4 linked regions of the Homo sapiens genome follow. The protein of the gene in region 1 interacts with the protein of each later gene in a pairwise test. Each region holds a gene or a part of one and is shown in the gene's direction. Other genes may lie near its edges.

Evidence for each region.
Region 2: the proteins of SMO (region 1) and NGEF interact in a two-hybrid assay, tested with the Homo sapiens proteins (one large-scale study listed by BioGRID and IntAct).
Region 3: the proteins of SMO (region 1) and SLC41A3 interact in a two-hybrid assay, tested with the Homo sapiens proteins (one large-scale study listed by BioGRID and IntAct).
Region 4: the proteins of SMO (region 1) and GABBR1 interact in a two-hybrid assay, tested with the Homo sapiens proteins (one large-scale study listed by BioGRID and IntAct).

Annotation. Positions count from the first base shown.
Region 1 is NC_000007.14:129,205,490-129,209,485, forward strand, and holds part of SMO (protein smoothened precursor), read left to right. Parts: intron 1-120; coding exon 121-293; intron 294-660; coding exon 661-880; intron 881-974; coding exon 975-1,098; intron 1,099-3,269; coding exon 3,270-3,362; intron 3,363-3,799; coding exon 3,800-3,908; intron 3,909-3,996. UniProt on the Homo sapiens protein: G protein-coupled receptor which associates with the patched protein (PTCH) to transduce hedgehog protein signaling. Binding of sonic hedgehog (SHH) to its receptor patched prevents inhibition of smoothened (SMO) by patched.
Region 2 is NC_000002.12:232,969,463-232,977,145, reverse strand, and holds part of NGEF (ephexin-1), read left to right. Parts: intron 1-2,181; 5' UTR 2,182-2,255; coding exon 2,256-2,523; intron 2,524-6,817; coding exon 6,818-6,932; intron 6,933-7,683. UniProt on the Homo sapiens protein: Acts as a guanine nucleotide exchange factor (GEF) which differentially activates the GTPases RHOA, RAC1 and CDC42. Plays a role in axon guidance regulating ephrin-induced growth cone collapse and dendritic spine morphogenesis.
Region 3 is NC_000003.12:126,079,197-126,087,662, reverse strand, and holds the start of SLC41A3 (solute carrier family 41 member 3), read left to right. Parts: upstream 1-3,538; 5' UTR 3,539-3,570; exon of another isoform or gene 3,571-3,734; intron 3,735-8,466. UniProt on the Homo sapiens protein: Na(+)/Mg(2+) ion exchanger that acts as a predominant Mg(2+) efflux system at the mitochondrial inner membrane.
Region 4 is NC_000006.12:29,617,934-29,625,616, reverse strand, and holds part of GABBR1 (gamma-aminobutyric acid type B receptor subunit 1 isoform a precursor), read left to right. Parts: intron 1-1,592; coding exon 1,593-1,727; intron 1,728-2,141; coding exon 2,142-2,312; intron 2,313-3,411; coding exon 3,412-3,513; intron 3,514-3,799; coding exon 3,800-3,865; intron 3,866-4,324; coding exon 4,325-4,516; intron 4,517-7,683.

The DNA of each region.
Region 1 (3,996 bases):
AGGTCTTGGTGGGGGTCCCCAGGGAAGGGTCATGATCAGAAGGGTCTGGGGCTCAGTTAAGGGTGTCTGTGTCAGCAGAATAACCCTAACCTCACAGAATGGCCCACTTCTCTCTTCTAGGCCACATTCGTGGCTGACTGGCGGAACTCGAATCGCTACCCTGCTGTTATTCTCTTCTACGTCAATGCGTGCTTCTTTGTGGGCAGCATTGGCTGGCTGGCCCAGTTCATGGATGGTGCCCGCCGAGAGATCGTCTGCCGTGCAGATGGCACCATGAGGCTTGGGGAGCCCACGTAGGTGTCTTGGGGACCCAGAGGTGAAGGTACAGGGAGGAAGGCTGAAGTGTGCGTTTACCCCAAAGGGAGCAGGTGCGTGTAAAACCGAGATCCAGGGCAGGATCTGGCTCTGCCCTACTGCATACTGCATGCAAGATCTCCAGTGTTAGGATCTTAGTTTCAGAATCAGGACCTTCATGGTTTGTATCTGCTCAAAGGGGCGGCTCCTAGAGCCTCCTCAGATCTGACCTGGGTCCTGTCTCCAAGCCCTGACTTCTGGGAACCTCCAGACCTCAGCAGCTGAGGGTCTGGGCACAGGGTGGGGAGACCAGGTAGAGGGAGTACAGAGTGACCGCCTCAAGTGACACCTCACCTCTCTGCACAGCTCCAATGAGACTCTGTCCTGCGTCATCATCTTTGTCATCGTGTACTACGCCCTGATGGCTGGTGTGGTTTGGTTTGTGGTCCTCACCTATGCCTGGCACACTTCCTTCAAAGCCCTGGGCACCACCTACCAGCCTCTCTCGGGCAAGACCTCCTACTTCCACCTGCTCACCTGGTCACTCCCCTTTGTCCTCACTGTGGCAATCCTTGCTGTGGCGCAGGTATAGTGACTGGTAGGAACGGGAGACCTGGATGGGGTGAGTTTGAGGGAGGGGGCCAGTAACCCACCTTCTGTCCCACCCCTTCCTGCTGCAGGTGGATGGGGACTCTGTGAGTGGGATTTGTTTTGTGGGCTACAAGAACTACCGATACCGTGCGGGCTTCGTGCTGGCCCCAATCGGCCTGGTGCTCATCGTGGGAGGCTACTTCCTCATCCGAGGTGAGTGAAGACCAGGCCAGGACCAGTTGGGCAACAAAATATACTGGGCACTTGCTGCCAGTACTGGGAGCTGCCAGCACGGCTGCCCCCATGCTGAAACCCCAGCTAGCTCCTATAGGGCCTTCACACAGTAGAAGGTGACCCTCTAGGCAGACGAAACACCGTGAGCACTTGCTGCGGGACAGCACCTTTGTACTGGCCAGAAAAATCCATCCCTCTCTCCAGGGCCTTGGCCCAGGGCTCACAGCTTGTTTTTTTTGTTTGTTTTTGTTTTTGAGACAGAGTCTAGCTCTGTTGCCCAGGCTGGAGTGCAGTGGCACAATCTTGGCTCACTGCAACCTTCGCCTCCTGGGTTCAAGTGATTCTCCTGCCTCACCCTCCCCCATAGCTAAAATTACAGGCATGCACCACCACGTCTGGCTAATTTTTGTATTTTTAGTAGAGACGGGGTTTCACCATGTTAGCCAGGCTGGTCTTGAACTCCTGACCTAAAGTGATCCACCACCTCAGCCTCCCAAAGTGCGGAGATTACAGGCATGAGCCACAGTGCCCAGCCTCACAGCTTGTTAGGTGGAGTTGGGTCAGGATCCAGCCCCAGTCAGCTCCTGGCCGGTGCACTTGTGTGATGAACACCCTGAGTAACCTACTCTGCCCACTTGGACCAACCTAGGTCGTTTGGTTATCTGTGTGCACATTAATTCGATATGTACTGTCAATCTTCTGGAGCTTGGTTTTCATCTTCTTTCTGTCCCCGGCACACACAGCTCTCACAGCATGCGTGGAATTAGTGGTCCCTAACTTTCCTGTCTCATGCTGCCATCCCATAGTAAGCCTCAGCATCTATTTAGCTCATTGTTGTTGGGTTTTCTTTGTAAACCTCAGTTTCCTCACCCTGAACTGCCAGCCTTCTGTTCAGTCACCTCTTTCCCCTCTTTTTGGCATAGTGTCTGGCCCTCTGATTTGTGCTTCGTTATCATGCTGTCCTAGTATGGTAATCACTAGCCACATGTGTTGAACTAGTCCAGCCTGGGTGCGGCGGCTCACTCCTGTAATCCCAGTACTTTGGGAGGCTGAGACGGACGGATCACTTGAGCTCAGAGTTCGAGACCAGCCTGAACAACATAGTGAAACCCCATCTCTACAAAAAATACAAAAGTTGCCTGGGCAGGGTGGCACATGCCTGTGGTCCTAGCTATGTGAGAGGCTGAGGTGGGAGGCTTGCTTGAGCCCAGGAGGTTGAGGCTGCAGTGAGCCATGATCTTGCCACTGCACTCCAGCCTGAGTGACAGAGTGAGACCCTGTCTCCAAAGAAAACAAGACAACAACAAAAAGAAACAAGTCCAAATTGAGATGTGTTGTAAAATGTGAAATACACACTGTATTAAAAAAAAAACTTAGTGGGAAAAAAATGTAAAATATCTCATTAATAATTTGTTACATGGATTACATGTTGAAATGATTTTATTTTGAATATATTAGGTTTGTAAAATATATTGATATTAGTTTTGCTTGTTTCTTTTAACTTTTTTTAAGTGGCCACTAGAAATTTGCCATATGTATGTGGCTCACATATTTCTATGGGAAGGCCGGCATGGTGGCTCACACCTGTAATCCCAGCACTTTGGGAGGCCGAGGTGGGCAGATCACCTGAGTTCAGGAGTTCAAGACCATCCTGGCCAACATGGTGAAACCCCATCTTTACAAAAATACAAAAATTAGCCGGCGTGATGGTAGGTGCCTGTGATCCCAGCTGCTTGGGAGGCTGAGGCAGGAGAATTGCTTGAACCTGGGAGGCGGAGTTTACAATGAGCCGAGATCACGCCATTGCACTCCAGCCTGGGCGACAGGGTTCCATCTCAAAAAAAAAATTATATGGATAGCGCTGTTCTTGAGTCTGTTTTATGTCTTTCCCATCAGAACAGCTTTGATCTGCCCCCTTCTTCAGGGGCAGCTGGGCCACGACCGAGGCTCCCTCTTCTCAAGTGTCTGTCTAGGCTCTGCCCTGGTCTTCTCACCATTTCTCCAGTGTCTCTAGCTCCCCAGGTTTTCATTTAGCACAGGGGTAATCAGACTTGGGACTCCAGAGCCTTAGGACCCTCCTCCCACTCACCCATCCTTCCCAGCAGGGCAGCCTCACCCCTGCTAATGTCTGAGGTCCCCCTTCTGTTCAGGAGTCATGACTCTGTTCTCCATCAAGAGCAACCACCCCGGGCTGCTGAGTGAGAAGGCTGCCAGCAAGATCAACGAGACCATGCTGCGCCTGGGTGAGTGGCCCCGGGGGACTTCGGTCTGAGGTCCTGGCCAGCCCAACACTGCACCCTCCTGGGGCTATGCGACCGGCAGGATGCAGTAAGTCAGTGGGACAAGTTAGCCATAGGGACAAGGACAAGGGGTGTGTGTAGGTGGTAGTGGTAGTGGCAGCTCAAAAGAAGGGGGTCTACTCGGGGGGAAGAATTCAGTCAAGTTCATGCCGGGACTGGTTCCTCCTGCCCACTACGTCCCACGTGGTCCCTCCCACAGTTGCTTCAAGTGCCCTTCTTATTTTATTTTAGAGAAAGCAGTTCTTGGACTGAGCCCAGCATGAGTTCACCCCAGCCCCAGCTGGGTGAACTTTGAGGCCCAGTGGGGCAGACTCTCTCCTCCCCACTGCTGCTGCGGGACTGGGCTTGGTAACGTCCTGTCCTGCCCCTGTCCTCCACAGGCATTTTTGGCTTCCTGGCCTTTGGCTTTGTGCTCATTACCTTCAGCTGCCACTTCTACGACTTCTTCAACCAGGCTGAGTGGGAGCGCAGCTTCCGGGACTATGTGCTGTGAGTGAGGGGCATGGAGGCGGCAGTGCTGGGAGCTGGAGCCAAGGCCATAAAGACACCCACCTCCACCCACCGGGCAGCAGGGATT
Region 2 (7,683 bases), on another chromosome or scaffold:
AAGAACGGTTTCGCTCTTATTGCAACCTCATCCCCTCAGTGACCCAGGTTAAACTTGCTGTGAATGAAAATCACCCCATCTCGCTGGAGCTGTGGGTTCTTTGCCACACATAAGACAAGCATCTTCCTCCCAGGCACTCCCGGGAAGGGTGCGTATTAATGGTCCATCCTAAGTGTGTCCTCCCAGCCACCGCACAATCCTCTCTGGCCACCTGAAATAGCAGCGTTGCTTTCTAGTTGGAAGGGGCTTCACCGACCCCATAGTGCACACTCCAACTTCATGGATCAGGAAACTGAGGCCGGGACCAGAAGGGTCAGGTATTGCTGGGTCCCCCAGACGACCGTGGTGGGGAAGGCACTCCCCAGGTCCCCATGAGCTCAGGTTGTGCCCCTGCACGTGGCCCAGCTGCTCTGAGGCAACCTCTGAGTACGTTAATGCTCATTTCTGCCTGGCTGACAATTTACAGGGAAGGTGGTTAATAGAACAGGATCAGCCCTGCAAGCAGGTGGGAAGGAGGTGCCATCCTAGGGCAAACCTTCTGATACAAACCTGTGTCGGAAGTAGCTGGTTCTAGGAACCAGAGTGGCCTTCAGTCTTCAAATCCCCCTACCCAGAAAGTCCTAATTCCTATCTTAGGTAAACGAAGGCATTCTCGGCCTGGGGTAGGGGAAACCCAACCTCCTGACTATTCTGCCAGACCACCTGCCCTGAGATCAGTAGTGTGGGGCTGGCTGGTGGGTGTAGAAGAAGGTGTTTGGGAACTCAGAGGGACTGTGGAGGAAGAGGAGTGGTGCGGTGGGAAAGGAGGCATCTGAAACCCAGCCCTCCATGCTCCCCATTTCACAAAGGAAGACACAGACAAACACTCCTGATGAATCGTAGAACACTGGTTGAGCTGGATGTTTGTGGAAGGGAGCAACAGAAGAGGACTGGAAGGGTTTTTTTGAGATGGAGTCTGGCTCTGTTGCCCAGGCTGGAGTGCAGTGGCAAGATCTCTGCTTATGGCAACCTCCACCTCCCAGATTCAAGCGATTCTCCTGCCTCAGCCTCCCGAGAAGCTGGGACTACAGGCATGTGCCACCAAACCCAGCTAATTTTTATATTTTTAGTAGAGACAGGGTTTCTCCATGTTGGCCAGGCTGATCTTGAACTCCTGGCCTCAGGTGATCTGCTCGCCTCGGCCTCCCAAAGTGCTAGGATTATAGGCCGGTGCCTGGCCAAGTCTCTGACCATTTTGAAGGTATGATGGAATCTCTGGACCGATAGGCCAGAAAAATGTATATGCTCATACACAGCCTTGTACCCTGAAAACCTCCATAGAATCCATGTGACCCCAGGTTTCAAGCCCTCAGATGAGTGGAGAGCTGAGAAGAATTCCTAGCTCGGCCTCTCTGTCTAACACGCTGTCCCACCAGCTTAGACCCACTAAGAGGGTCCACATAGTCTCTCGCCCTGAGCACCCCTACCCTAGGAGGTCTTTGTGGGGAGGGAGGTGGGGTTTGTTCCTGTTGTATCCCCCTTTTCCTATGAAAAGTGTCCTCGTTCAGATGATATGCTATATGGTCACCCCAGAGGGAGGTAACCATTCTGTTTCTCCAGCCCATGGTGGGGTGGCCATGGGATGGGGGGACCTTATTCTTCCACCACGGCCATACATCATTCCATCAGAAAGGCCACTAATGCACCCACTAGACTTGGTTGCCAGCTGATGGCAAGGTTTGTCGCCTTGGGGATCAACCTTGCCCATGTCTAAACTTACCATTGTGAGACCTTGCACCAGCCCACAACCCTTTCTCATCTTCTGAGACTTTCTTTTCCTGTCTAGACATTTACGGTCCCTCTCAATGCTTTCCTGGAATTCCCTCACTATTTCTGCCACCCTTTTTCTCTGGAATTATTTAAGAAGTATTTATTTGAATGTAGTTTTGCAAGCCACTTTAAACATTTCCCCCTAAAAGTGCCTCTTAGGAATAATGTAAACAAACGGCAATTATAAAATGATACGTGAATGCCTCCAAATTGCAGAGATTAAGCTGTAATTTTCAGTGGCGAAGACGTGGATACCAGGATGTGCAGATTATCCCACGTTTCATCAAATTCGAATGGGAGTGGAGTTCCACAGTCTGAATAGAATACTTAGCCTGATGACTAACTGAAAATTGTTTTCTATCTATTCTAAAGCACTCAAACCAGTGAAGCTTGGGAAAGTCATTGACCTCCAGTCGTTCTGCTGAGAAACATCTGGCTCTATTTCCATGGAGACCAGGGAATCTGAAGATTTGGAAAAGACCCGGAGGAAATCAGCAAGTGATCAATGGAACACTGATAATGAACCAGCCAAGGTGAAACCTGAGTTACTCCCAGAAAAAGAGGAGACTTCTCAAGCTGACCAGGATATCCAAGACAAAGAGCCTCATTGCCACATCCCAATTAAGAGAAATTCCATCTTCAATCGCTCCATAAGACGCAAAAGCAAAGCCAAGGCCAGAGACAACCCCGAACGGAACGCCAGCTGCCTGGCAGGTCAGTATCAGGGACAGCTGTCACGGCTGTTCCCTTACATCCAACTGGAGTCATCAGTGCTGAAAGGTCCTCATTAAATGAGAAAGGATAAGTGGCATTGAAAAGTACCAAGGACAGTTTCAACAGGGTAGTGCATTTTAAAACCATTATCTAAAGAACCCAAATTCCTCCACTATGATGACGTGTGTACTTAGGAGAAAGGGTTGACCCAAATTAGACAATTAGACTGGCTTCTACTGAAAAGAGATTTCTTGTTCTAGAACTCAGCAAAACACCCCTCGCTGTACATGCATTCTAGGAGGGAGACTTAGAGCCATCCACATTACGGGTCATCTGAGAACATGAATTGTCTCGGTGATGAGGTTCTGTCCTGTTCTCTCACTGTGACTGCCATAGCCAAAGCTTCTGCTGCTCTGAAAATAAATGAGATTAAAACCTTGGGAATAGATTTGCAGCAAGACTTCTTAATCTTTTAGACCAGTGCCTAGCACATTTTATCTGCTCAAAATATATGCATTGAGCAGAATAAAGTTCAGAAAACTTTACAAATGGGGTGTTGGTGCTACAGACTCTTTTCCTTGTGACGTGCTCCTGTGGTTGACAGGCAGCCTGCTGGGGGTGAAGAATGTGTGACAGTTTCCCAGCCCGGGAGGCACAGCAGCTGCCACCAGACTATATATGCTACCCTGAGTGTGCCAGAGTGGCAACCCCTGCTAAATCCAGAGACTTCATCAGTGCATTCAAAAACATTCATTAAACCCTGTATTGGGTAGCTGTTTGCCACACGTTAAACTCCCCTCAAAATATAGAGACTTAAAACAACAATATTTATTATTTCTCATGATTCTGGGGGTTGGTTTAGTGGTTGCTGTGTCTGGGCCAGTTTACCTAACCTCTGCAGTCAGCTGGTGGCTCTTCTGGGTTTGGAAGGTGGAGGACAGCCTCACTCATCTCTCTGGTGGTCTGTGAACTGGGACTGCCTGCCTCTGCTCCACGTGGTCTCTCATCCCCCAGCAGGCTGGCCCAGGCTTATGCATATGGCAGTCGGGTTCTGAGAGAGCAAGAGCAGAAGCTGCCTGGCATCTTGAGGCCTAGACGGAGACTCAGACCTTGCATAGTCCCTTGCACCATGTTCTGTCAGTCAAACCAGCCCACAGGGCCAGCCCAGACCAAAGGGGTTGGGGAAATTGACTTCACCACTCCACGGTGGTAGAATCTGTGGCTGTTGCCATCCACCACAAACACTAACAAAATCATGTATCAAGCACTGAGTTAAGCAAGAAAAATACAATGATTGAAATACTATCGTCGTGGAAGCTCAACTTTTCCATATGTTTGAAATTTCCCGTATACTAAAAGTTAAAAGCACATTCTCACACACGAGGAAGCTGGGGTCTCTGCCTTTGAGGAACCCACAATATTGTAATGATGTCATTTTAATGCAAGCCATGTGTGAAAGTTTACAGGAGAGATAAAGGCAAAGCATTAGACCCTTCTGCTGGGGTTAGGAAAGGGCTTCCCAAAGAAGATGATATTTCAGATGAGTCTTGACAAATGGGTAAGGACGGCCGGGTGCAGTGGCTCACACCTATAATCCCAGCACTTTGGGAGGCCGAGGTGGGTAGATCATCTGAGGTCAGGGGTTCGAGACCAGCCTGGCCAACATGGTGAAACTCCATCTCTACTAAAAATACAAAAATTAGCCGGGCATGGTGGTGCATGCTTGTAATGCCAGCTACCCAGGAAGCTGAGGCAGGAAAATCACTTGAACCCAGGAGGCAGAGGTTGCAGTGAACCAAAACCATGCCACTGCACTCCAGCCTGGGCAAAAGAGTAAGACTCCATCTCAAAAAAAAAAAAAAAAAAAAAAAAAAAAAAGGATAAGGACATGGCTGGGGAGAAAGTGGGAGCAGGCTTGGTTGATTTCATGCAGGTACCCGGTGGCTGTGCTAGTTTGCTAGGCAGGCATTTCAAGGGTATTCTTACCATACCCATTTTACAGATCAAAAAATAAACAACTGAGGCCCACAGAGATTGAGCCACTTACCCAGAATCACACAGCTATTGTGTGGTACAGACTGAGCTAGAGTTCAGATCCTTCTGGCTCCAAAGCCTGTGTAGATGGAGAAGGGGGTTACAGTAGCGCCATCCAACAGAAATATGCTGCAAGCCACATACATCATTTTAAATTTTCCAGTGGCCACATTTAAAAAGTACAAATAAATGGGTGAAATTAATTTTAACAATGCATTTTATTAACCCAGCAGATGCAAAAGCTACCATTTTATCCTGTAGTTAATAATCAACATAAAAAATATCGATGAAATAGTTTACATTCCTTTTTTTTGCATGAAGTCTTTGAAATCTGTTGAGTATTTTATATTTGCAGCCCCTCTCAATTCGCATGCCAAATTTTCATTGGAAATACTTGATCTGGAATTAGATTGCATAAAATGTACAGTCAGAAAAGTGGATTTACATACCCAAATTGATCCAAATACCCTTAAAAGTTTCCCAACAACTGAATCAATATGAGTTTGTACTTTTAAATGTAAATTACATTAAATAAAATGAGAAATTCCCCTCCTCAGCCACATTTCAAGTGCATAATAGTCACACGTGGCTAGCGGCCACCCTGTTGGACAGGGCAGGGGTAGGGCACTGTAAGCAGACAGAAAAGCAGCTGCAGCTGCCAAGGTTGGGGGTCGGGGAAGTCTTTCAGGGTTGCAAGAAAAGGAAGGTGTAGGGCTGTGTCTGGGATGAAGCTGGGGAGGGCAAGAGGGCCGCTGGGGAAAGAGCCTCGAGTTTGTGACCTCCCCAAGCTGAGCCAAGGATGCTGACACCAGATAGACAGAACAGTGCCATCCCCAAAGGTGGCCTTTATGTCCAGCCATAAATGTTTTCATCAGATTTGCAGGGGTTGTTTGTTTGTTTGAGATGGAGTCTCGCTCTGTCACCCAGGCTGGAGTGCAGTGGTGCAAGCTCACTCAGCTCACTGCAGCCTCCACTTCCTGGGTTCAAGCGATTCTCCTGCCTCAGCCTCCCAAGTAACCGGGACCACAGGTGTCTGCCACCATGCCCGGCTAATTTTTGTATTTTTAGTAGAGACAGGGTTTCACCATGTTGGCCAGGCTGGTTTCGAACTCCTGACCTCAAGTGATCCGCCCACCTCAGCCTCCCAAAGTGCTGGGATTACAGGCGTGAGCCACCGCGCCTAGCCTTACAGTTTTATTTTTACAGTGACTCCTTCATGTCACCTCCTTGGAGCGAATTCTTTTGACTGCTCAGTACTTCCTGATCCAAGAATCCAAGGAGAAAATGTCGTGCTTGACCTACATGGTGAGAAAGAGCACGGGGTGGGGGCTGGGGAAGAGAAGGAGCAGACAAAATGGGCTACTGGGTCACTCCACAGCCACCAAAGAAGCTCATGATCTGGAGTCACGATGTGTGATTTGGGTCTGGAAGGTGTGGGACATTCTCTGTTTCATCTGCAAAATGAGTACCCCTTCAAAATCACAGCAGATCATTGCCTAAAAATCCCACCCCCGGGTGAGCAGACTTTCTGGGGGAGGCTAACTGGACTTATTATTTCATATTGATTAGGACTTGGGAATTGTTAGATGCTAAAAAAATTGGCAAGTTGCCAGTGATTTTTGACCAGTAGAAATAACACCAATCGTTATGGTTTTATTGCCCTGTAAATATTAGCCAGGTTTGTATTCTTATTTCCAATATCTTTTTTTCCACTGACTACGTATGTATGTTTATGTATATGTAAATGTATATGAAGTTGCTTAAATCATCATTATAATTTTCTTTTTTTTTTTTCACCCAGGCTGGAGTGCAGTGGCACGATCTCAGCTCACTGCAACCTCCGCCTGCCAGGTTCAAGCAATTCATCTGCCTCAGCCTCCCAGGTAGCTTGGATCACAGGCATCCGCTACCACACCCGGCTAATTTTTGTATTTTTAGTAGAGACGGGGTTTCACCATGTTGGCTATCCTGACCTCAGGTGATCTGCCCACCTTGGCCTCCCAAAGCGATGGGATTACAGGTGTGAGCCACCGCACTCGGCCCATAATTATAATTTTCATAGGGATGGCATCCCAGGCCATCTGACACAGCATGAGGTGTGACAAACTCCCCTTCAGGGAGTGAGGGGAGGGACACCCCTTCCCACTCTGCTTCCTCCACCTTCCAGCATGACTGCTGCTACTGTCCTAGGCTTACAGAGAATTGCCTGAAAAGGGTTGATCTGTATCTTCTAACTTGCTCCATTTCTGAATTGTCACAGATTCACAGGACAATGGAAAATCTGTAAATGAGCCCCTGACCTTGAATATCCCCTGGAGCAGAATGCCTCCTTGCAGAACAGCAATGCAGACAGACCCAGGAGCCCAGGAAATGAGGTAAGAGATGGCAGATCATGAGGAATGCTGGTCTGGGAAAGATGCATCAGAGGTCATTGCTGCAAAGACTTGACAGGGTTACGAGGGTGTCATGTTAAAAAAAATAATAATAACTTTTGGTTGCCCGTGCTAAAAAAATAAATAAATAAAAACTCCATAATTTAAAAAAAACTTTTGTTTTGTACAGTAATTTTTTAAAAAAATATTTGTGGGCAGTGATGTGGTCTTGCTATGTTACCCAGGCTGGCCTCAAACTCCTGGGCTCTAACGATTCTCCAGCCTCAGCCTCCCAAAGAGCTGGGATTACAGGCACAAGTAACAAAAAAACTATTGTTACTCCTCTGACAAAACTAGGAAATTTTGAATACTACATATATTAAGAAATAGAATAGAAAAATCACAGCCGGCGTGGTGGCTCACACCTGTAATCTCAGCACTTTGGGAGGCCGAGGCAGGCAGATCACTTGAGGGCAGGAGTTTGAGACAAGCCTGGCCAACATGGCAAAACCCTGTCTCTACTAAAAATACAAAAAACAAATTAGCCAGGTGTGGTGGCACTCGCCTGTAATCCCAGCTACTCGGGAGGCTGAGGGAAGAGAATCGATTGAACCCGGGATGTGGAGGTTGCAGTGAGGTGAGATAGAGCCACTGCACTCCAATCCTGGTGATGGAGTGAGACTGTCTCAAAAAAATGAAGGAAGCAGGGGAGGGAGGGAGGGAGGGAGGAAGGAAGGAAGGAAGAAGGAAGGAA
Region 3 (8,466 bases), on another chromosome or scaffold:
CAAGATTCTTTCTTATATAGTATCACTTTCCTTTTTACCTTCTTTACCAAAAATTACCTCTTTATGTCTTATGTTTCTCTACATCTCTTATTTCCTAGTTCCTTTTACCTTGTTTTATACATAACCTTTAAATAAGCTTTGAATTAGAAAAAGATATTTACCATTTAAAAAAAAGTTTTTCTATAATTTTTAAATTGGAAATTACCCAGATACTTAATACTTATTAATAACCTGAGGTCCTAAATTATATGACGTTTGTTTACAAACACTTATTCCATTACCTTTACCTGATTAATTTATTTGTTTACCTGGATTATTAACAAAAACTGTGACAGTCATTATTGAAGTTATTTCCCTGTTAACCATTTTTATAGCTGTGAATTTCAGGTGTTTACTTCAATAATGAACTTATGATTAAATATAAGAGTATTTTTTCCAGTAACTCATGATTTAGCTGTTTTCATTAAACCAACCATATTCCATGTCTTATTTATCAAAAATTATACAAGCAAAGATCATTCTGTCTTGGGCTGGGTTTTATAGTTTTATAACCCTATGGCTAATCTTATAGTATTCTGAAGGAATAAGCATGAAGCTACTTGATCAATAAATGCAAACAAAAATACTAACAATTCTTAGAACATTTTAATTTTTTTTACCAATGATTTTAAAGACAGTTTATTTATTAAATATTTTACTTGTCACGTGAACTTGAAAAGCATTGATTAGTATTTTTTGATCAAGTATTTAAGTGCTTTTATTTTTACTTAAGCTAATTAGAGCTCTTTTACATATTTTTAGTAGTGACACATTGTGTACACAACACATAAATGCATAGCGTATTAGGCATGGCAATAGAAGTACATCTTATGTATTTGTAAGACCTCTTTTTCCCTTAGACTTTTAAATTCATGATAGCCTGTTTCATCACCCTGGGCAGTTGTCAGCTAAATAGTCCTACATTTGCATATTAAAGGAAACAACTCTTAGGTGAAAAATCAGATAGCAAAATTTACATCTCAAAGTACCAAGAGACAGTCTGGTTTGCTAGAGGGAAATTAAAATGGATTTAATTTGCCATTTAAACAAAATTATAGAAGTCTATTATAAAATCCTTTTAAATACACACACACACACACACACACACACACACACACACACACAGATCCTATAGCTTTTACTTCAGAACTTTAGCCATGAGATAAATACAAATTCCCCAGCTTGCAAAAAAAAAAAAAAAAAAAAAAAAAAAAACAAGAAAACAAAGAAAAAGAAAAATAGGTTAGATCCAAACAGTGGTTTTTAATTTCAGTACAAAAGTAAAAGCAGATTTAAAGCAGGCAGAAAATATAGAGAAGAAGAGAACTTAGGAACTCTATAGTGTACAGGTTGACCTTAGGGCTCTTTTCCTTAATGTAAATGTGCACAAGGATCATTATATTTCCATTTTACATAAGCTCTGGCAAGTAGACGCACCATAAAACCAACAGAGTGCCCGAAATGAGGTCATTCTCCTTGTTTTCTCCTCATTCTTAGATCATTTGTTTCCCACCTTTTTTTTTCTTAGAAGTAGGAACTGAGCTGTGGCCTAGGGTTTTTGTGTGGTGGATCAATGTGTGCTGCTTGTGGGCAGGACCCCACCATGTGTCACCACTGAGTTGTTTCCACCCTGTTACATGTCTCAGTTTCTCTCTCCAGAGGTCTATTACCTTTGAGAGGGCTCAAAATGATGGGTGATCAGTCCTTATATGCATTCCTGGACAAGCCATTTTTAAAATTAATTTTTGTTGGGGATTTCCCCATAGGGCTGCTGCATGTCACAGGATGTCAACCCCCCCCCAGACACTCCCACAAGGCCCCCAGTCACCCAGGAGCACGTTTTGGCTGGGAGGAGCAAATGCCTTTCTCTTTGGAGTTGAGAAAACTCAGTCTCTCATTTACCTATGAAAACAACAGTTCAATTCCTCACACAAATGCGCAGACAAGCCGAATCAAGATTAATTTTGGGAGAAAAAGCAATAAAGAAAACCCTTTAGAATGTGTCTCTGAACTAGAATTAGAATCCTTAAACAACAACTTCCTAGGAGAAAAACCAGCTCACACTAAACGAAGGACTGTCAACCAAAGGGCGATCTGGGGCTCAGGAGAACTTAACCAGTTCCATCGGGGGAGAAGCTAGAAGTCTGGGAGGCTTCAATGGGCCCCACTGGTATCTTCGCTCCGAGTTCAGGCAACTCCTTTGGGGTCCTGAGTCTTCTCTGAGGCCCCACGCTGGGTGCCAAATTATTGTGGAAGAGTCAAACTCTGTAAAATATTTGAAGAGATTTATTGTGAGCCAAATATGAGTGACCACAGCCAGTGACACAGCCTTCAGGAGGTCTTGAGAACATGTGCCCAAGGAGGTCGGGGTGCAGCTTGGTTTAATACATTCTGAGGAGGCATGAGACTTCAAGTTAAGTTCATTTAAGAAATAAATTTGTTTGATCCAGAAAGGCAGGAAAACTCAAAGAGGGGGAGGGTGGTTCTAGGGTATAGGTCAACTTAAACATTTTCTGGTTGACAATTGGTTGAGTTTGTCCAAAGACCTGGGATTAAAGAAAGGAATGTCTGGGTTAAGAGGTTGTGGAGACCAATGTGTTTTATCACGCAGATGAAGTATTCGGATAGGGTAGCAGGCTTCAGAGAGAAGAGGCTGTAAAATGTTTCTTATCAGACTTAAAGTCTGTGTTGATGTTAATGCAGGAGAGGGATAATGAGGCATGTTCGGCCTCCACTTCCCCTTATGGCCTGAACCAGTTTTTCAGGTTAAATTCTAAAAGTCCTGGCTGAGGAAGAAGTCCATTCGGATGATTTGGTGGTTGGGAACGGGGAGGTGCCTTATCATTTATTTTTTGGTTTAAAATATAATGATATATTTTACCAAGTCTTGTGAACCATCAGGCCTCCCTCAGGCCCGGACTGGGAATTGCCAATTTCGTTAGGTGTGACCGTAATACTATGAGAATGTTTAAAAAAATAGGCCTTACTGATTAAACATACTCGAGTATTTAAAGGAGAATTTATCCACTGGGATGCTTTAAAATTACTCTGGGAAAAAAGGGAAAACGAAAGGCATGTGTGGGGTGAAGCACAGACTTGTCGTTGTTGTTTTTAAAGCAAAAGGCGGGTCCCAAGGGAAGTTGGCTGTCGGTGGGTTCCCGTTCTCCGTACCTTTCTACCTTGACAGCTCCATAATAAAACCTGCAGCCGCATAGGCGCCTCTCCCGTAGCGCTCCCGCGGGGGCGCCAGTGGGGCCCCAGCTGCGAGGAGGGCCCGGGCTCGCGAGACTCGGTCCCCCACTTCCGTCCCCGCGATCCCCGGCTCCCAGCCCCCCGGGCCCCCGGCGGGGCTCTGCGCTGCCGGAGCTTGGGCGTCTGCTGCTGTCCCGGAGCGCCAAGTCGTCCGAGGTCCGGCCGCCCGGCCGGGGCGGGGCCAGGGAGGCCCGGCCTTCCCGCTTCCTGCCTGAGCCGCAGGCCCGCCCCTGCGTCCTCCGCCCGCCTCTTTCCCGCCGCCGCCTGGGAGGGGACCCGGTAAGCGCGGCCCTGTTCCGGGCGGGGTTGGGGCGGAAGGTGGGGTCAGCTGGGGCCCAAGGGGGGTCGGGGAGGCGCGCGGGAGAGGGCGCCCGGGAGTGGGTGCGCGGGAGGCGAGTGAGCCGGGCGCCGGGCCCTGGGGGCTCGGCGGGAGGGGGAGTCAGGTGGGGACCGGGATTTGGGGGACTCGGTGGGGGAAAGGCGCGCGGGAGATGAGGTAAACACGAGGGGTCGGAGGGGCGGCCTGGGGCGGGGTGGGGCCATGCCTGGGGTAGGCCACGCCTCGGGGAGGCCGGGAGAGAACCCAGGCGCTGGGGGTCGCGGGGGAGCCGGCCGGTCCTACCCTTAGGTGTCTGAGGCCGCTCCCCACACCGCTGCGGTGTGCATTCAGCGGCCCTGTCTCCTCCTTCCTGGCCTGCTCAGGGCACGGCTCCTGGTTGGATGTCACACGCGTGACTCCTGCAGCGCCCGCGCGCAGGGACCCCTCGCTGCCTCAGCCAGACCTCCCGCCAGCCTCTACCACAGGCTCAGCCCACTGTCCTGGGTGGGCTCGGTGCAAACCTCTGGTGAAGAAAACCTCCTGGGGGTGCCCAGCCGGGAGTCTGTCTCAGAGTCCCACACTCTCTCCATCCAGGAGAGCCGGTGGGATAGGTCTCTTTAAAATCCCGTTATTTATTTGTTTATTTTTTCCTCTTTCTTCCAGTTTTTTCCATATGACTTTAGTGATCAAATCCCACTTTTTTTTAGAAGGCTTTTTTTACACCAGTGGTTTTCAAACTGTGGTCCCAGGACCAGCAGCACTGCCTTTCCTGAGATCTGCTAGAAATGCGGGTTCCCCAGCCCCACCCTGACCTTCTAAATCCTAAACCTTGGGGGTGGGTCCCCATACTTGTCTTTAGCAGGTCCTCCTCGTGGTTCTGACCATTGATCTGAAACCTTAGGGCTTTGAGGAGTCTGAACTGGGGTTGAGGATGGGCCAGGTGCCCTGTGATGATAATGCATGACTCCATTTAATCTTCACAGCCCTACACAGTAGGTAGTATTACCCCATTTCACAGATTAGGCAACAGAGGTACAGAAAGTTTAATTTTTCCAAGGTCACAGACCTAGAAAGGGGAGGAGCTGGGATTCCAACCTTGGGTTCCGGCTCCAGAACATTCCCACTGAGGCGAGGTCCCCTGTGAAGGTGGGGAGGGGTGAAGCCCAGAGGTCCTGGCGGCCTCCCTGCCAGGCAGAAACCATTAGTTCCAGAATCACGACCAGCCAGGTGCGTGGTCAGCAGTGGCCCTGCCTGCCTGCCTTTGGGCGAGCCCTGGTCTGTGTGAGCTGCTGGGTCCAGGTCCCCGGGCAGGATGTGTTCGCACTGGGGTGCTGACGGGGCGCCTAGAGGCCTGGGTCCAAGGCCAACCTCACAGGGTGACACAGGGATGCTTCTGGGTGACAGAGTGTCCGTTTCCTCCTCAGTCTGATGGGGGCGGATACCCCCCAACCCCATGCTGGCAGCTGGGAGGGTGGGCAGCCTCACAGACTCAGGCGTGGCTCTGAACTGTGGCCCCAGGTGGTCCACAACCTGTCCTGCCCAGCCTAGCCCCTTTCAAGGCACAAGGGTCTCTGACCACTGCCCCATAGCAGGGTTTCTCGGCCTCCACACTACTGACATTTGGGGTGGGGCAGTTCTTTGTTTTGGGGGGCTGTCCTGTATCACCCCCTGTCGGGACAACCAAAACCATGTGCAGACATTGCCCAATGTCCTCTGTGGGGACCTTGGAGGCAATGCCTCCACTGGCATCTTCTGGCATCTTGGCTCCTCCCTGGGGCTCTGGGATTAGAGGTTTCCTGGCCCACAGCCCACTTTCCCACAGGAGCCTCCTCCAGCCTGTGCTTGGTTGTTCATCTGCACGAGCTGTCAGTGACACAGGGACATTGGAGCATGTTCTCCTTGCAAACACTCCAACATTCAGGTGGAGCTGAGGGGCCTTTGGCCATGTCCACAGCTGGGAGATCCCCCACCCTGCAAGGGGCACAGAGCAGGTGTGGTGCTGACACCAGCTGGGCCCTGCTCCCGGGTCACCCTGGCCAGGCCTTCCTCTGGCACCATGTGCAGGCACAGTGAGGGTGGACCAGGGCTGGGGCTCTCTAGGTACAGCTGCACACGTGTTCCCAGCATGAATCACGGATCAGGGCTGCGCCAGCACCTGCCGCTCTGGTGTTTGCTGTCACCAAGCACAGTGGCTGCGCACTCTTGGGTTAACCTCCTCAGGCACGCGTGTGAGTGACTCACCAAGACTGTGGCTGAGTGAGGATGTGTGGCCTGGAGTGGTCACTGCCCAGTTGCCTCTGGCAGAGGCAGACCCAGAGCCCTGTGGCTGTGTTCCAGGCCCTTCTCCCCACCCCTTGCCCTAGTGGTGGTGAGGTGAGGTGCATCACACCAGGTTCATTTATTTATATTAAAAAAATTTTATTGACACATAATAGATGTACATATTTTTGAGTTGCCTGTGATAATTTAACACGTTCATGTAACTTGTAAAGATCAAATCAGTGCAATATAGACATCCATCATTTTAGAGATTGGTCTTTTATTCCAGAAACATTTGAATTCTAGCTATTCCGAAATATAAAATAGATTATTGTAAACTATAGTCACTGTATTGATTCATCAAACACGATTTCTTATTTCTTCCATCAAACTGTGTATTTCTAGCCATTAACCATCCTCCCTTTTTCCCCCTGTCCCGCCACAGGCTTTGGTAACCATTGAACTTTCTACCTCCTTGAGATCCCCTCCTTCAGCGCTCACATATGAGTGAGGCCATGTGATGTTTGTCTTTCTGTCCACGGCTTATTTCACTGAATGTAATGACCTCCAGTTCCATCTATATTGTTGCAGATGACAGGATCTCATTCTTCTTTATGGCTGAATAGTACTCCATTGTGTATATGTACCGCATCTTCTTTATCCTTTCATCTGGTATGGAAACTTAGGTTGATCCATATCTTAGCTATTGTGAATAGTGCTGCAAGAAACATGGGGTACAGATATCTCTTCAATATCCTGGTTTCCTTTCTTTTGGATATGTACCCATTAGTGGGATTGCCGGATCATATGGTAGTTCTGTTTTTAGTTTGTTTTTTTTTTTCAGAGATGGAATCTCGCTCTGTTGCCCAGGCTAGAGTGCAGTGGCACAATCTCAGCTCACCACAACCTCCACCTCCTGGGTTCAAGTGACTCTCATGCCTCAGCCTCCCAAGTAGCTGGAACTACAGGCGTGTGTCACCACACCCAGCTAATTTTTTGTATTTTAGTAGAGATGGGGTTTTGGCATGTTGGCCAGGCTGGTCTCAAGCTCCTGGCCTCAAGTTATTCTCCCACCTTGGCCTCCCAAAGTGCTGGGATTACAGGCTTGAGCCACTGCATCTGGCTTGCTTTTAGTTTTTAAAGGAACTTCCATACTGTTCTCCATAGTGGCTGAACTAGTTTACATTCCCACTAACAGTGTACGAGGAACACTTTCTCCACATCCTTACCAGTGTCCATTATTCCCTGTCTTTTTTATAAAAGCCATTTAAAATGGGGTGGGATAATATCTCATTGTGGCTTTGACTTGCATTTCTCTCATGATTAGTGATGTTGAGTACTTTTTGCATATATGTGAGCCATTTATGTCTTCTTTTGAGAAATATCTATTCAGATCTTTTGGCCATATTTTAATTGGATTTTTTTTATATTGAGTTGTTTGAATTCCTGGTACTATATATTCTGGTTATTAATCCCTTGTGAGATGAGTGGTTTCAGATATTTTCTTCCATTCTGTGGGTTATTTTTTCACTTTGTTGTTTCCTTTGCTGTGCAGAAACTTTTTAGCTTGATGTAATCCCATTTGTCTATTTTTGCTTTGGTTGCCTGTGTTTTTGAGGTCTTACACAAAAAGTCTGCCCAGACCAATGTCCTGCAAAATTTCCCCAATATTTTCTACTAGTAGTTTCATGGTTTTAAATCATATAAGCCTTTAATCTGTTTTGATGTGATTTTTTAATATAGTGAGAAATAGGGGTCTAGTTTCATTCTTCTGTATATGGATATCCTGTTTTTCCAGTCCATCTATTGAGGAGACTGTCCTTTCCCCAGAGTATGTTCCTTGTGCATTTGTCAAAAATGAGTTGGCTATAAGTGTGTGGATTTATATCTAGGTTCTCTCTTCTGTCCATTGGCTTATGTGTCTGCCAGTACCATGCTGATTTGGTTACTACAGCTTTGTAGTATATTTTGAAGTCACTATGATGCTTCAAGCTTTATTCTTTTTGCTCAGGATTGCTTTGGCTATTTGGGGTCTATTGTAGTTACATATAAATTTTAGAATTGTTTTTTCTATTTCTGTGAAGAATGACATTGGTATTTTGGTAGTGATTGCATTGAATCTGTAAATTGCGTTGGGTAAAATTGTCATTTTCATTGAAATTCTTCCATTCCTCAAACATAATGTATCTTTCCATCGGCTTTCATTTTTATTTCCCTAACCTCTTCTCAGGTGGCTGTCTAGGCTGCCTTTGTGTTTCTCCAGCTGAGCTCTTGTTCCCATCCTGTGTCAGTTTCTCCATGGTTTTCTCTGTAGGAGTTCTTCATTCTTTTTGCACACTTATCCTTTGTCTCTTGTATTGGGTCCAACTATTTTCTCCTAGGCTTTTGCTTGCTTTTAAATTTTATTTAGAAGTTTTGTCCTACAGAATATTTAAACTTTGATGTAGCTAAATTAATCATTTTTCCCCTTTGGTTTTTGCTTTCTATTGTGTGTGTGTGTGTGTGTGTGTGTGTCCCTTACCCTTAAGGAATTTAAATCCCTGATCGTGTGTGGGTGTGTGTGTGTGTGTGTGTGTGTGTGTTTCCCTTACCTTAAG
Region 4 (7,683 bases), on another chromosome or scaffold:
TGGAATGAGTCGGTTTCCTGCCTGCAAATCCAGATCCTTGCAAGAGCAAAGAGAGGGAGGAGAACTAAGGAAATCTATTGGGGAGGGGGAGAGAATCACGTGGTGGAGAGAATCTGCAGTGATGAATAGTGTGTGGAAGAGGGAAACGGTTGCAAGAAAAGGTAGATAAGAAATCAGGAAACAAAATGGGGGGCATGCCTTGCCCTGTTGATATGTATCTTATATGTTCTTGTATGTCCTCATTGTTCCTATTAACCCTGTCTTTAGAGAAGTGGAGGGGCACTGAGGGGCTGTGGGAGAAGCTGGGAGCAGGATCTGGAGTAATAGATGTGGGGAGAGTGCAGGAAGGTGGGTCCTGAGAATGGTAAAGATTTACAAAGTTGCCCTAGTGGGAGGCATAAAGAGAAAACCTTCCAATGTTGTTGAGCACTGCCCTTGGCCAGAGTGAGGGTAGGGTGGGCAACAGAGAATTCTCAGTGACTGCTGGTTCTTCAGATTCCAACAGCTTCCCCTGGCTCCCCCTTCTCCAACTTCCCACCGTGTCCCAAATGTCAGGCCTCAGTGGGAGGTAAGCAGGCTCCAGAGTGCTTTCTTTATTTCCTTTCTACTTATCCTCCCCTCCTGGCAACATTTCACCCTCCTTAGTCCCCTGAGCCCCCTGTCTGTGTCCCCTCTGCCCTGGCTCCCCACTGGCTGCCATTTCGTCTTCACATGCATTGGGGTTCCAGCAGCTTCTGAAATGTCATATATCAGTGGGAGGGGAACAGGCAGTGGGAGACCCAAGGCTGGCTCTTCCTCCCCCATTTCCCCTCCTCCCAAGCTTCCTTTCTTCTCCAGCTTTCTGCTTGTTTACTTTCCCTAGCTCCAAGCCTCTCTTTAAGGCACCTCTCAAATTGTCTGGTTTCTTGAGAGTTCCATTCTATTCATTCTCTCTGTTCTTTCCTCATCCTACATTCTTCCCTACTTCCACCCCCCAGTGTCTTTTTTTCTAATGGACCTGTCAAATGTCAGCGCCCAGCAGGAGGGATGGATCACTGAGCGGGACCCCCTACTGGTCTTGTTCCTGTTCTCTCTTTACTTATCACTAGCTCTGAAAAGAGAAGAGGGAGGAAACAAATGGAAGGTGGGGAGAAGGGGTTTGCAGAGGTGAGGAAGGAATTTTCATAATATGGCTTTGAGCAAGCTATCTGGGGATGTGGAAAGAGTTTACCGTATTCCTACTGACTTCTTCCACCCACTGGTGTTTGAAGCATAGAAACATGGGGTAAAGGGCTTGGTGACAGAGGGAAGGGGGATGTCTGAGGGTGAGCTGAAAGGAGGTAAGGTGGTATGTTCATTAATACCAAAGGAGGGGTGTGCAGGAGAGGTGATGGGTAAGGCTCCAGATGGAAGACAGAGAAGGAAGTTTAATGAAAGAGGAGAAAAAAGGCACTTGACAGGAAGAGATGCCAGAAAGGAGAAGAAAACGGTAATTAATGATGAAAGTGAGTAATTGAGAAAGGAACTAATTTGTTCGAGAAAGATAAGAGCAGGAATTGCAGACAGGGGAGGGGCCCCAGGAGAGCTTGCCCTCATCTCCTCTTGTCTTTCAGTGTGATCCAGGCCAAGCCACCAAGTACCTATATGAGCTGCTCTACAACGACCCTATCAAGATCATCCTTATGCCTGGCTGCAGCTCTGTCTCCACGCTGGTGGCTGAGGCTGCTAGGATGTGGAACCTCATTGTGGTAAGCAGGGCTATGGGGGTCAGAAGATGGGGTCATTCCCTTTTGAGCTCTACTGAAGGGACGATGGCGATTGTGGGTTTGTATTGAAAAGGAGTGTGGAGGACCTGCTACTAAGATTCAGAGTCCTCTGCAGACCTGAGCTAGGCAGCCTCCTAGCAACAGTGGCCTGACAGTGCTGCAGCTGACCTCCTTCTTCAGAAGGAATTGAAATTAGATCAGTGAAAGAGCATCCCGGTTGTGAGGGGTGTGTGGGCCTTTGAGAATCTCTTTTCCTTAGGCAGACCAGAGGTGGGGAGGTTTGGAGAGAGTAAGGAAGAGAAACCCAAAGGCAGGAAGAGGGTTAAAGGAACTCTTGGCCACTCTTGGTGTCCTCAGTGAACAGACCCTGTTGCACTCACTCTCCCTGCCCCACAGCTTTCCTATGGCTCCAGCTCACCAGCCCTGTCAAACCGGCAGCGTTTCCCCACTTTCTTCCGAACGCACCCATCAGCCACACTCCACAACCCTACCCGCGTGAAACTCTTTGAAAAGTGGGGCTGGAAGAAGATTGCTACCATCCAGCAGACCACTGAGGTCTTCACTTCGGTGAGGAGGGGTTGGGCAAGGGGTAAAGGGACATAAGCTCAAATTCCAGCACCAGGAGATGTGACGTGAGAGTCACTTTTAGGGGCAAGAACTTGATTCTTCATTGAAAGAGAACGCATTCCATGTGGATTAAGTGCAGTTCTTTCTGTAGCCAGGGGAAAGAATGAGTTGAGTTTTTGGGATCCTCTCTGTCTTTATGATTTTATGATTTTTTTCCCCTGTTTGATGCCCTGTTCCCCAGACATATAGACCCAGAATGACTCAGTTCTGTTAAAGTAGGTTCAATCCAAAGTGGGGGCAAGAGATGGGAGCGAAGATGAGATAGGAATCCAGGAAGGCAGCAGATTCCAGAGGCTTTCAAGGGGGGTGGTGGGTGGGTGTGAATGGGAACAGAGGGGATGGAGCCAGTGGATTACAGAGGAGAGAGGGAGAGGAAAGAGAGAGAGAGAGAGGAATGAGGGAGAGGAGAGAGAGGGGCAGAAAGGCAGCTGCATGGATCTGGTAGTTGGTACTAAGAGAGAGAAGCCGACAGACAAGGAGAGGTTGAGGGGGAAGAGGGAGATTTGGGGAGGTAGAGAGGAAATACAGGCTCTACATCTGAAGAAGGCAGTCTGCTCCCTCCCTTTTATTCTATTCTTTGGGTCTTCTATCCACTGTGTTCAGTGGCCCTTTAATCCTCCCCCACTTTCACTCTGATTCAGACCATTCTTCTCTGATCCTTTGTCTGTCTGCCCATTTGCCTCTTGAGGTTGACATCATGCTGTCTGTCCCAGTCCTTGCCTTGTCTTTTCCTGGTTCCTTTATGTTTCTTTACCCCATCTTTGCCTTCAGTGGTAGGAGTGGGTGAATGGAGTGGCTTCCCCCACACAGAGCCTCAGCAGGGGCTCACCATTCACCTTCCCACTTGGAATCCACATCCTAAGACCAGATGCCTTCCCGAACTCCTCACTTCAGGGACAGAAGCTGTTGAAGGAAGGTTCAGAATGGCTGCTTCTTTGCTCTATCTGAGTATTGCTCTGAAATCCCCAGTTAACCTCTCTGGTCTTTATTCCCTCATGCACCCCGTGTTTTTCCAACTTGTTTTTTATTCCCACCCAAGACTCTGGACGACCTGGAGGAACGAGTGAAGGAGGCTGGAATTGAGATTACTTTCCGCCAGAGTTTCTTCTCAGATCCAGCTGTGCCCGTCAAAAACCTGAAGGTCAGATGGCTGGGAGTGGTGGGCTCTGTTTACGGAGGGACCAAGCTGGGGGACAGTGACTGGTTGGAGAGGAAAGCCAGGCGGGGGCAGGTTTTGATTCTCTGAGGCAATAGCATCTCCTGGGGAAGTTTAGCTCCATCTTCCAGTTGACGTTTATTCACTATACGTTGAGCGTTACCCTGCACTAAGCACTTTGGGATGGGAAATCAAAGCTGTGAAGACATCTGGCTTAGCCCCTCAGGCATTCCCGGGCATCCCTCAGGAGCTGTTTCTTTCTCTGTTGTAGCGCCAGGATGCCCGAATCATCGTGGGACTTTTCTATGAGACTGAAGCCCGGAAAGTTTTTTGTGAGGTGGAGTTGGATCTGAAGAGGGAGGGGCACTGGGTGGGAGTTTCCCTTGGTTTTCTTGTGGGGCCTCCTCTTGGCATCTGTGCCTGAGTTGATAGCATATGATCTGAGGTGACGATTCATAGGATGTCTCTGTCTGTTGGCTCTGACTGCATCCCTTGTCTGCACACACATGATACTTTCTTCAGATCTCATTTTTCTACTGCTTTGTGTTTCCTGAGAAGCCCATGAATTCCATCTGTCCTGACTGGCTGGAAAAGGCCACTCAGAAATACAGGGGCTGGGGAGAAACTTAGAAGGAAGAATTGTCAGCCTTTCCTACTATCCCCAAGACTTGTAGATTTCTCTTTTTAGTTCTACTGCTCTTCCCTGATTCCCAAGAGGCTAAATAGTATCAAGTGAGATAAGACAAAAACAAACAAATGAGCAAACAAAAACTCAGCCATTCTCCTCTGTATTCAGGTGTACAAGGAGCGTCTCTTTGGGAAGAAGTACGTCTGGTTCCTCATTGGGTGGTATGCTGACAATTGGTTCAAGATCTACGACCCTTCTATCAACTGCACAGTGGATGAGATGACTGAGGCGGTGGAGGGCCACATCACAACTGAGATTGTCATGCTGAATCCTGCCAATACCCGCAGCATTTCCAACATGGTGAGAGTGTGGGGACTTGCAGTCTGGCACCTGGGAGGGTGGAGAGGACTGAGGGGGCCTTGCAGGGGAAAGGGTGGCAGGGAGAGGGTGCGGAATTTGGATATAAAGGAGAAGAGGGGGCTGTGCCCACCCTGAACTTGTCTGCATTATGTTTCCTGTGGATCCTACCTTTGCTCTGACTTCCTTGGGTAGAGAGAGAAAAAAAAAAAAACGATGGAGTTGTATGTTCAGTAGGTTCCTGATGAGTGGAAGGGCTGTTACCATGGAGACGAGGAGCAGTTGGTGAGAAGTCAGGAGGAACCGGCATTAATGATAATATGGATGCTTGTATACTCAAGCACACCTTTACAGGAGCACTGTGTCTGGGCAGAATTGCATTTCATTTTCTTGGTGATTTATGTTAGTGTTTTAGAGTTGCTTAATATTCACTCATGATTGATATGCAATTAGCTTGGATCCTGTTGCTTTTTTTAATGATTCTTTTTTTAGAATTTTATGTGGAGAAGGGGCTTTTGAAATCATTTAGCCCCAGACAGCTGGTTAATGACAGACTTGGAGCGAGGAGGCGCATTCTCTGATTTGAGAGGGCTGGGGCAGCCCTGCAGCTGAGGGGCAGAAGTGAGTGTGGGTGTGGGCACAGGGGAAGAGGCTTCTTTGTTGCTCAGCACTACATTGTAAAGAGTACAGGAATTTTGGGTAAGCTCGATACGGCCACCTATGTGTCTGCTTATTACACCAAGTGTGTACCTGCTTTGGAGAGCATGTTAGGGGTGAGTTAATGGTTGTAAAGCCCCAAAATAGCTTGATTTAAAAAGTTTTACTAACAGTGGCATTTGTGTGGTACTTAGATTCATGATTTCAGGGATTCTAACAGCAAAACTCTGATGTGGACTTATCTACATTTTGTAGACCAGGAAAATGAGACTCAGAGTGGTTTAATGACTTGTCTCAGGTCATGCAGCTACTCAGCAGTCCAGCTGGAATTGAATCCTAGTTAAATCTGGCTCCAAACTGCTCTGCTCATCACTTCCCATGGAAAACCATGAAGCCTGACTAAAAAGTTTGTACTTTTATCTGCTAACACTGTTTAGCTACTGGCAATTGCTGAGCAAAGGAGAAATAAGATTTAGGAAGTTGACTCTGGTGGTGTGTTGTGATGAAAGATCTGCTGCCACATGGACTCTGATGATACACACTGTTTTGGGACATTCTAAATGGACTCTATGTTTTAAGGTATGTTAGTTGAAAAATACAATGAAAAAATTTTGGAAGATCACTTTCCTGTAGAGTACCCAAGAGGTGAGTCATCCATAAAACCTGGGAAAGTATTGGAACTGGCTACCAAAGCCAGAAAGACTTGTTGGTGCCCTGAGCCCAGGACTTGCCAATCGTTGCTTCTGTCTTATAGCAGGGAGCTAGAGGAGGCTGACAGAAAACAGGGATTTGGCTGGATCTAGTGGCTCACACCTGTAGTCCCCAGCACCTTGGGAGGCCAAGGCAGAGGATCACTGGAGCCCAGGAGTTCAAGACCAGCCTGGGCAATATAGTGAGACCCCCAGCTCTAAACAAAAAGAGAGAGAGAGAGAACAGAGAGATGGTTAGGGACATAGAGGGACACCTGAGCATTGGGGTGGGAAGACTTGGAAGGTCCCTTTCTGACTTTGTGTCTAGAGAAAGATGGTTCCTGCTTTTGAGGCCATAGGGCTTCCAGTGGGACCAGCCTAAAATGCCAGTGGGGAAGCCAATGTTTTCTGAAGAGGATAGAGCAGTCTTAACAATAGGTTAGGGGCAAAAGAGATTATAGATTAATCAAACAGCACAAATAGAAGTGGATCAAAGCAAGGGTTGGACCTAGGGGGCCGGAGCCATGGAGACTTAGAAAAGAAGCAGAGTTGCTTTTATTCCCTAAGGATGGCCTTATGTTTAGATCAATAGTTCTCAAACTTTAACATCCGTCAGAACCACCTGGAAAGGTAGTTAGTTCACAGGTTATCAGGCCCTTCCCCTGGAAATTCTGATTCAGTAGATCTGGGCTAGGGCCTGAGAACTGACATTTCTAGCAAGTCCCTGGGGATGCAGATGTACTGGTCTGGGGATCACACCTCGAGAACTATTAGTTAGGGTAGTGGTTTTCAACTACTACCCTAGACTCAGACGCTATACTATCTGGAGGCATTTTTGGTTGTTACAGTTGGGGGTAGGGGATGGGGAGGGATACATGCTCCTGATATCTAATGTGTAGAAGCCAAAGATGATTCTAAATATCCTACAAAGCACAGCCCCTGGCAACAAAGAATTATCTTGCTCAAAATGTTAATAGTGCAGAGAATGAGAAACCCTAGTTTAGAGAAAACATCTTTAGGGGCAATATGTGGAAATGGAGAGTGGGTTAGAGTGGTTTTAGAGAAATGTAGCTGTGGGCTAGAGGGGAATGTGGGAGGTGGCATCCTGGAGATAAGATTGTGAGGAAATCTTGATTGGGGTAGAGATCCCATCAGACCTAGGACCAGTACAAACTAAAAAGCTACCTCAAGATATACATTTTAGCCCACTGTCAAGCATCCATTCTTGAGAGCCAGACAAGGCTGTTAAAAAAATTAGGTATAAATTTGCACTTGGTTGATTAACTAATTGCTGTGGGTTGAGGGGTCTTTATTGTTCAGATTTCCTTAAGCTGCAGAGTAGAGTGTCTCTTTGACAATCTATAACTGTATCTTTACTGACTCAAGGGGGAAGCATTCTACTCTTCTTTACTCTTGGGGTGGCAGGAGCAGTGGTGCCCCCAGTGGTTAGGCGTGTTAGTGGTAGTGACCTGGCGTGAGCACAGGGTCTGACCACCTGAGCAGGGGACCGCATCGTGCTGAGCAGATTAATCCCTTTCTTTCTGGGTGATTTTTTTGATGCCATATTTACCTTGAACTGAAGATTGGATAGACCAATCTTTCAATTTGAAGCCAAAAGACTACTCAAAGTATTAGCCTAGCTGCTATTTGTGCAGGTGCTCTTAGAGAGAGGCAGTCTCATGTACAGAGACTGTGTAGGGTGGCTGGTAAGAGTATGGATTAGCTCTGCTACTCATTAATAGTATAACTTTTTTATAGGCAAGTTATATAACTTTTCTGTGCCTCAGTTTTCTTATCTCTAAAATGGGGATAATAACACCTCAT